3 linked regions of the Homo sapiens genome follow. The protein of the gene in region 2 interacts with the protein of the main gene of each other region in a biochemical or structural test. Each region holds a gene or a part of one and is shown on either strand. Other genes may lie near its edges.

What was found.
Region 1: the proteins of APBA1 (region 2) and LPAR1 interact in a test that uses a peptide from one of them, tested with the Homo sapiens proteins (one large-scale study listed by IntAct).
Region 3: the proteins of APBA1 (region 2) and RAMP3 interact in a test that uses a peptide from one of them, tested with the Homo sapiens proteins (one large-scale study listed by IntAct).

The regions. Positions count from the first base shown.
Region 1 is NC_000009.12:110,940,838-110,944,495, forward strand, and holds part of LPAR1 (lysophosphatidic acid receptor 1), read right to left. Parts: intron 1,332-3,658; coding exon 584-1,331; coding exon of another isoform or gene 504-583; exon of another isoform or gene 1-503.
Region 2 is NC_000009.12:69,427,008-69,429,335, forward strand, and holds the end of APBA1 (amyloid-beta A4 precursor protein-binding family A member 1), read right to left. Parts: 3' UTR 525-2,328; downstream 1-524. UniProt on the Homo sapiens protein: Putative function in synaptic vesicle exocytosis by binding to Munc18-1, an essential component of the synaptic vesicle exocytotic machinery. May modulate processing of the amyloid-beta precursor protein (APP) and hence formation of APP-beta.
Region 3 is NC_000007.14:45,174,765-45,178,422, reverse strand, and holds part of RAMP3 (receptor activity-modifying protein 3 precursor), read right to left. Parts: intron 1,115-3,658; coding exon 982-1,114; intron 1-981. UniProt on the Homo sapiens protein: Accessory protein that interacts with and modulates the function of G-protein coupled receptors including calcitonin gene-related peptide type 1 receptor (CALCRL), calcitonin receptor (CALCR) and G-protein coupled estrogen receptor 1 (GPER1).

The sequences.
Region 1 (3,658 bases), about 42 Mb from region 2:
ATTAACCTCCACTACTACAAATAGAAAATTAATAGAAAATAAGGAAGTTTTCATGAAGATGACTGTCAGAGAATATCATTAATTCCAATCTGTTTTGTTCAGTAAATCTATATAAAACCTTGATATACTACCTATAATGTAGCAACAATTACAGAATAGACTAACAAAAATAACTATATATGGAAGCATATTCATATTCTACAAAAGCACTTTCTGTCTGAAAATATGTAATACAGAAACCACAATGCAAAAGTTTCACAATTTAGGCTGTAAGAAAAATGAATGAGTTTGACTGGTAATTCTGGTATTTTCAATATTAGATAGCCAAACTCTTCAATGACATCTTTTACATCATCATCATTTATACTGCACCACTGGGACCCATGTTTCCCTAACGCTAATTCTATAATTTTAGGAAGACTCATAAGCTGACATTTAATATAAAGGTGCCTCATCCCCTTGTAATTCCTGGTGAATTACCTGGTGAATATTCATACTGTTGGTTACCTCTGACATAAAATAATGTGGTTTATGTTAGTCACTGAGAATCTATAAAGTAAGTTACAGTCAAGACAGAACTTACCAAGCACAATGACCACAGTCTTCAGAAGACTCATCATGGTATCCCGATTCCGCCGGGGTCCAGAACTATGCCGAGACATTCTCATAGTCCTCTGGCGAACATAGCCAAAGATGTGAGCATAGAGAACCACCATTACCACAAAGGTCACCAAGTTGAAAATGGCCCAGAAGACTAAGTAAGAGTCACTGTAGAGGGGTGCCATGTTGGAACAATTTTCAATATCACAGATACAGTTCCAGCCCACACTGGGTATAGCACCCATAACGATGGCCATAGTCCAGATGACCACAATGACCACCACTACCCGCCGGTTGCTCATCCGTGTGTGGAGCTGCATGCGGAAAACCGTAATGTGCCTCTCGATTGCAATAGCCAGTAAGTTGGCCACAGATGCCGTCAGGCTGGTGTCAATGAGGCCCTGACGAAGGAGCCATGTGCTAACAGTCAGTCTCCGAGTATTGGGTCCTGTGTTGAACATGAGATAGAAGTAGGCCAACCCAGCAAAGAAGTCTGCAGCAGCCAGATTAGCCATTAGGTAATAAATAGGAAAATGGAAGCGGCGGTTGACATAGATTGCCACCATGACCAATAGGTTGGCCAACATGATGAAGATACAAACAGTGATTCCAAGTCCCATCACCAGCTTGCTGACTGTGTTCCATTCTGTGGCAAGATGCTTTCCACTTCGGTTATAAAAGAAGGCAATGGACTCGTTGTAGAAGCACTGTGGTTCATTCATGGCTGTGAACTAAAAGAAAAAGGAGAAAAGATGATGAAAAAGAAGGCACAGGTCCAAATTTAAAGCTTATATAGATAACACAAGACTTTTATAGTACATGCAACAGAAAAACAAAAGCAAATAATTTGAACATTTGATCCTGCATACCATCTTGTGATTATGTTGAAACTCCAAGGTTTCTCACAATATTACTGTCCTTAAGATTAAAGGCAGTTGGAGTTAAATAAATGACAAGGTCTCTGCTTAGTGGTTTTATGTCATTGAAGTCTACTACAAAAGCCACATGGCCAAGAAATCTTGCTTAAAATACATGAGACAGACAAAAATTTTGCAGAACATTGCAATTGGAATATTTACCATAGTAAAATCTATTTGACCTGTTATTTAGGGAATCTGTAAACACAGTTGGTTTCTAGATAGGGTATCATTGCCCTATTATTCTGCATTTCTATTCTCACACAGTATGTTCCATGTGGGACAGACATTTTGTAATGCAGGTTCCCACAAGGACCATCATTCCAAACATTTCAAACAAGTCACTGTGCATCAAAGGTTTTTTGCCCAAAGCCAGCATTTGCTGCTCAACATTCCTGTGGTCAGCACTGCCTACCCCCACAACTCCTTAAGTTCAGAATAGGACTTGTCAACCAATCTATGACATTTGAGAATTTTTTTTCTTTTTGGAGGACCCAACGTAACCTCCAAAGAGTAGGTGACCCTTTGACAATGTTCTACAAGTAAAATATACTTAGATTAGATGCAGCATATTTTTTAAAGTGTGGAGTGAAAATGCTTTATAACATGTTTACTTATTCTTCAACATCATTGATAAGAATATATTTGCTTATTATTTACAATATTTATAATAATCACTTTAAAAAGGATTGAGACAGTTTAAAACAGAATAATATATGTTTATTTATCTATCATAATATATAATATATAATTATATATAATTATAATATGTAATTATATATAATAATATATTTAAACAAAATTAGAAAATAAGTAACAAACTAGAAATTAGAAAAGTATACATCACATAGAGTAAGTCATTCTTCTTGAAGCTCTAAGTTTACCTGGGACCCCTAAAATTAAAAAATATATCTTGAAGACGGTTCACATTCTACTTTTTCATTTTTATTTTGCTTTGAATCTAATAAATTACCCAAAACATATGACACTTTTAACCACTATTTTTGATCAAATATTCTACTGAATATCCATAGGTTGTACACTAAAACTTCCAAGAACAACGTGAAATACTTAAGTGGTTAGTCTTCTGACTTACCCAGGCATCTAAAGTCTCTTTCCTTATCTAGACTTTAATAGCTTTTAGATTATGCTTCAAATATTATACTTAATACATTGTATAATTATTTATCTCTTTACTTGTCTGCTTCTTAAAGAGATCACAGTCCAGGGCACAGTGGCTCACATCTGTAATCCCAGCACTTTGGGAGGCCAAAGTGGGTGGATCACTTGAGGTCAGAAGTTCGAGACCAGCCTGGCCAACATGGTGAAACCCCCTCTCTACTAAAAATACAGAAATTAGTCAGACATGGTGGTGGGCACCTGTAATCCCAGCTACTCAGGAGGCTGAAGCAGGAGAATCGCTTGAACCCGGGAGGTGGAGGTTGCAGTGAGCCAAGATCATGCCACTGCACTCCAGCCTGAGTAACAAAGCAAGACCCCAACTCCATCTCAAAAAAAAAAAAAAAAAAGACAAAGTTGATCAAGCTGTTTCCCCACTGGACATGTTTTAAGGGCTTATGAGTGCACGTTAGATAAAAGTCTAAACTTTTCAATCATCTTATCAGACCTTACTTACCTGCCTCTCCAGCCTCAACTCAAGATATTAATGACTCCAAACTCTCAGCTTCAGCTCTATTTAATGTGCTGTGCTCTCTCTCTCAACTCTGGTTCTCAACAGTGAAAACAGTGGTTTCTTGTATCAGAATTACCTGAGAGTTTGTAAAACACTGATTGCTGACATAACCCGCAAGAACTTCTGATTCAGTAGATCTGAGGTAGGGTCCCAAGTAATGCCAAGGCTGCTGGTCCAGGGAATCACTGTATCATAATTGCTTAATTATCTGTTGATCCCCTCTACACTAGGCTATGAAACCCTATAAACGCAGAGATTCTAGCTTGCTTATTCATTGTTGTATAGTATCCAACTGTTCTATGGACTACATGCTAAATACATATTGATTTCCTTAATAAATTAAAGATATTTCCAAAAATGTTTAAACTTTACAAATTTTCTTTCTGCAAAGGATATTTAAAACTTTGTCAAGACAAATATAAAAGTCTGTTCTTTTCATTAGTCTCTA
Region 2 (2,328 bases):
GGGAGTCCAGGGCCCCCAGCATGCCCCCGGCAGCAGGGAGGGCATGCCTGGCAACCTTCAAAAAGTGAATTTCCAAAGAGCACCAGGAGGAAACCTTCCAGAACCTTCTCACAGAACCTTTGGATGGGCCTCTCAGGGCGCTGTTTTCCACCGTCCACTTAGATCTTAGTCCCTTACAAAAAGGTACCTCCCTTACGGGAGATGACTGAGGTGGGGGAGAATTAATTCCTGTTTTCCTGCCCTCATGGAGGATGTCAAGTAAGAAATCCGGAGAATTTCTCTTTCTCCAGTTCAGTGTGCTCAAAGGAGACCCACAGGACTGGAGGATCAACTGGGACAGGAGAACAGAGCCTTTCTTGTCTAAAACCAAGTCAGTTCCACAGAATAAAAGCTCATTTAGAGAACTCCTGGGCTCTGGGCGCCTATAGGGTGGGTAGGAGCTAGTCAGTCAGTCTGTTAGGGAAAAGACAAACTCATCACATGATCCCAAGCCTTCCCTGCAACAAGAAGACACTTGGCCAGGCCAAGAGGTGAAGTTCTTGTTTATTGTTGCAGCAACTCTTATACAGACATTAGCGTTCAGTTAAATAAAGGAAGATAGATAGCACAGTAAATACATCACAACCCCAAACTGGATGACTGTGGCCACGGGACGGAGGAGGGAGGGAGGGAGGGACCAGTGACCAGACTGTCAAGGAAGTACATTCAGTGGGTGTGCGGTGTCCACATTCCAGGCTCACGTGTAGATATATTTTATTTATATATTTATTTATATTTATATATAGATCATTGAGTTTTGTGTATACAAAGAACGATATTGTTACAAATACAATACTATACTTCTCCCGACACTTTACAATAAGCTCTATTTCACCCTCTTTACAGAACAATAGTACAAGTTCATACTCTAGGTGCTGTGCTAAGTATGTACAAGAAATGTCATTCCCACACAGTCCTCACACACTGCCTTGATGGAGGGGAAGAAAGATCGAGTTGTGTGCTCAAGTCAACCTAGGCCAGGGAAGGAGACACATGAAACTCAAACCAACAGGTGGCCTGTGAATGCGAGTAAACACATCTAAGGAGGGGCGGCCCCTGGTTGTAAACATTGGTAACGGCTACACCACTGGGTCGAGGGACCCGGGAAGGGCTCTGTAGATGGTTTTCATCTGTGTGCGGGAGGTGTTGGTGCCCACAGGGTGAGGGGGGCAGAGGAGCGATGGGGGAGGTAGTAGGTTACTCTGGGACTCCCTGAAGGCGGTGTTGATGGGCAATGTTCAGAAAGCAAACCCGTGCACAGGGACCCGGCACCCCTGCCATGCACTCCTAGGAGCCTGCTCTGGCGAGGGAAGGTGTCGCTGGAGAAGTGGGCTCCAGGCATTGGTCTTTGGGGGTTTCTTCCTCTCATGAACCCAAGGCTGATGGTGGCTCCCTGAAATGCTCACACTGGAGAAAAGGCAGGATGGGTTCTGGTGCCTCTGCCTGGACCAGGAGGGGGAGGTGAACGTGGGAGTCCAACCCCAAAGCTGAGCCACCAGCACACCCTGGTGGAGCAGCCACAGCAGCTCTGTGCCCTCACAGCGTTTGGGAAGGCTGCCCTGTACATAGCCTTCCCATTACATGGGGTATTTAGATATTTACATGTATAACTATATATACTGGGATGACAGAAGGGAAGACCACCACTTCTCTTGGGACTTTCAAAAAATCTAGCGACTTGCTTTTAAGACTGTGGCTGCTGAGGTGACCATACCTAGGCTCACTCCCTTGCCCCAGTGGTAGTGGGAAAAAGAACCCACTTCAGCTGGGTGGACCTGTACCGAGCTCCAGCAACTTCCACTCACTGGGTGTGAAGACACACCTGGATTAACACAAAAGAATGTGGCAGAGAAATCTTCTCACTCTAATGTTACAATGTCAGTCCTCTAGGAGAGCTTGCAGAATTGGCTTTTTCAGCACCTCTCAAAGTTTACAAGGTTTTTGTGCAATAGGAATAGAAAGTATATTCTCTCCTTTAGGTGAACATACATAACCGTTATGTGCAGGTTGTACAGGGATGCACTACTGGAGTTCTGTCCCCTGGCCAGTCGTGGGCGGGCCTCTGTGGCACTGCCCAGGTGCCTAGGGACAGACAGGCATGGGCCCCTACGATGATTTTCCAAGGCTCCTGATGCCTGAAATACCACCAGTAACACTTCATTCCTGTTCTATCCACTCTTATTGGCAGAGGAAAGATGAACTGGCTGATGACTCTTTAGTGTCTCACTGTATCACCAGATACTCTACAGCAAATGGAGAACCCTGGCCATGGTTCCTTCCTGGTCCTCA
Region 3 (3,658 bases), on a different chromosome or scaffold from region 2:
CAAAAGCATGAGGCCAGCACATTTAGGGTCTGGCAGCAGCCACCAGGGGGTGGCACAAGACTGCAAAGCCAGAGGTGGAGTGGGGTGGGGCAGAGGACTGTGAGGCCATGAGCAATTTCCAAGGAGGTAAGGAGATGAAAAGCTTGGGAAGCTTCTAGAACAAGGGGACCTCCCTTCACTATGAGGTGTTGTCCACAATTACACCTGATATAAACCATTGGAACCCAATTCCTCTAAGTCCTCTGACCACTGAGGACAGACCCAGCCATGACTGGTGCTGTAAGAAAGACACATGACAATGTCCACCCAGCTCCAGCTGTAAGGAGAGGTGGAGCACCCTCCAGGCAAGGCATCCCCCAGGCCAGGGCACCCCCTGGGGTAGGGCAGCACCCACCCCTGGGAGAGTGCACCCCCCAGGCCAGGCCACCCGCAAACTGGACACTCCCCGGGCAGGGCACCCTCCAGGCAGAGCACCTCCCAGACAGGGCACCCCCAGGCCAGGGAACCCCCGAACTGGACACTCCCAGGGCAGGGCACTAATCTGGATCAGGAGGAAAAGCAGGCATGGGGAGGATTCCTAAATAACAGAGGAGAGGGAGAAGCAGAGGCACAGTGTAGAATTGCTAGAACATCAGAGTGAGGATGCGGAATGGGGGGTAGGAAGCTGGGAACCCGCTGTGGGTGTGGGGAGCACAAATGCCGTGGGCAGGGGCACGGCATGGGCGGGGCCGTGAGTGATGTGCCAGGGGGATGTGGGTGGGGTGGCCAGAGCCAAGAGCAGAGTGTGAATAGGAGCGTGGTTGGGGCCCTGGGCAAAGTGTGGGGCAGCACATGAAAGGGCTGTGGGTGGCCTACGGTGGGTTGTGGGTGAGGCATGGGTGAGGCCTTGGGTAGAGTGCGGTCAGGCTGTGGTCAGGCAGTGGTTGGGCAGTGGGCAGCGCTGTGGTCAGAGCAAATCCCACGCCCAGCAGTGGCACTCACACGATGAACTCGGACAGGTTGCACCACTTCCAGACGTCCACCTTGCCCATCATGTCTGCGAAAGCCTTCCCACACAGGGGCAGCCTCTCCAACATGCCTGTCTCGTTGCAGCCGCCTGCTCTGGGACACCCACCTGGAGAGGGGACAGCCATAAGAATTCCACTACAGTTCACACTGGGGATGCCAGGACAGGGGAGGCCCAAGGGGCCATAACTTGAGTACTCACTAGCAAGGCTCCGTTTGCAAGCCTGAGACCGTTCCAGCGGAGTCCTTCACCCTCCACCCTGACCTACCTGTCAGTGCAGAAAGGAGGCTCCACACAGGGACCTGTCCCCAAGACAGGACAAGTCCACCTTTTCACTTCACCGCCTCACAGGCAGTGGCACAGGCAGGGATCAGGCAGTGAGACCCTGGGCCAAACTCCTTGGGAGGTGGTGAGAGGGTCTCAGGCAGATCAGGGCTGGCAAAGAGGCTCCAGTTCCAGCTTAGGAGTCCCAGGGGCCTGGGAACATCCTGAGGACTCTAAGACCTGGGGACCATCCCACTGCCTGCAGGGGCGGCAGAGGAGGGCTCCAGGCCAGTAAAGACCAACCCCTCCCGGTCAAAGACCCCCTCCAATTCTGGGAAACCAGGGGCTGAGGCCACTGCAGGGACTCATGTTCCCAGCAATGGGAATGAGTCCTTTGGACTTTCTCAGGGTCTGACACAAGCTGCTTGTCCCAGGATTTCCCCACTGCCCTTCCCAACCTCTGCCCACCAAAACATCCCCTCCCCTTCCTCCTCATGCCTTTGCTCCACACATTTCCCCATGGGGAACATCCTCCCTCCCACTGAGCAATGCCCCCTGTCCTTCAGGGCCTGTCTCCACGGTCATCCCATTTCCAGACGACAGGACCTCCCTGCTCCTAAACTTCCCTCACCTGACCTCTGCTTTGGTGCTCATCATATACTCAAGAGAGACCCCAGGCATATGTGTCTCGGGTGTGTGTGTGTGTGTGCACGCACAGCCCTGCTGTCTGTGTCTTGGTGTGTGTGTGTGTGTGTGTGTGTGTGTAGGTACACAGCCCTGCCATCTATATCTTAGTGCATATGTGTATGCATACATGAGCATGTGTGTACACAGCCCTGTCATCTGTGTTCCGGCGGCTGGTGCTGGGCTAGAGGAAATACCATGAAGAAGCAGATAAGAAAATGGTTCCAGATTGACATGGGACAGACCTGGCTCACACCCACACTTCACTGGTTACCAGCTCAACCTCAGTTTCCCCATCCGCAAGATGAGGGATACAGGCCCCACCTCACAAGGAGGTTGAGCTGGCTAACTTAGTCTGAAATGCTCAGTGCCACCTCCAGGAACGTATCATTCATTCATTCCCTCAATAAGTCTTGGCTGAATGATAGAGAAAGCAGTGAGCATTTCAGAGTCTGATCTTCTTCCATGTGTGGCTCACCCTGGGCACTGAGCAAGTGCTGAATAAGTCACTTTAATATGGAAATGGCAGGTTTAGACAGGACCACTTTCTGGTGCAGGGACCTGCTCCACCAGAACACAGCGCCCCAGACACTCCTCAAGAGTCATAGCCTGCTTAATGCTAACATTAGGGAAGACCCTGGAAGCCCCTTGGTTGAACAAGCGTCTGATGCCAGCAAAAGGGAGTGGCTTGTCTAAGGCCAAAGGAAGGCTGGAGGGGTCCAGATCCCAGGGTTAAGGGAACTGTCATGCTCAGCCCACCCCCACCTGCAGCAGAACACCTGGAGCACATACAGAGGACAGGTGTTAGCTGGAACCCCACAGAGGAGAACACAAAAGGGCTTGCCAGCTGTTCAGGGTCGTGGGTTCCCAGACTCAAGGCACCTTCTTCCCTTCGTGACTGCCCAAACCTATACCTCAGAATCCAGGCTGACAGCACTGAGAAGGGCCCCTGGGGGTCACAGCTGGTAAAGTTGGACAGAGGACTTGCAGGTCCCAGCAGGTGGTCTGAGAAGCCTGTGTAGGCACTCACATCTCCCCTTCTGTCCATGCAAGCTTCCCCAGGACCCAGGGCATCTTGAGGCCCCAGAGAACCCTGGAGATGGGAAGCACACAGGCTGTGGCTCAGTGGTCAGCCTGCTGCCATGTGTAAGCAGATGGCAAGGACACAGGCTGGGTGAAGTCACCACCATGGCCCCTGGACACAGGGTCAGTGACTGGCTCTCCCAGAACAGGTGTTTCAGGGCCTTCTGGCCACTCTGCATGGTTTCCAGCACCTGGAATGTCCCTGACCCCCACGTTCGCTTGTCTCATCAGCACAGCTGCAGGCCTGGATTCTCTGAAAGGCCACACATCCCACTTAGGGCCCCAACCCCTGAGTGAGCCTCTGGGGTGCTCACCTCTCTTCACAGAAAGGCCATGTGCTCATTCTGTGTCTGTCCCATCCCTGCATGTAGCACAGGTCCCCCACATGGTCCCACAGGGTCTGCACATGGAGATGGTGGCTCAGTACCCACTGTCAACCCAGTGAAATTTATCCAAAGATTTAGCAAAACATCCTGGACCACCGCTATCATGTGTTGCGGACTGTGTTGGATCCTTGGACAAGGGGAGAGGGAGAGGGTCTGGTTCCTGTCTTCAGGACCTGCCATCTGGGTTCCAGGGGGCAAGAGGAAGACACAGGGATCTCAGTCCAACTAGGGGAGT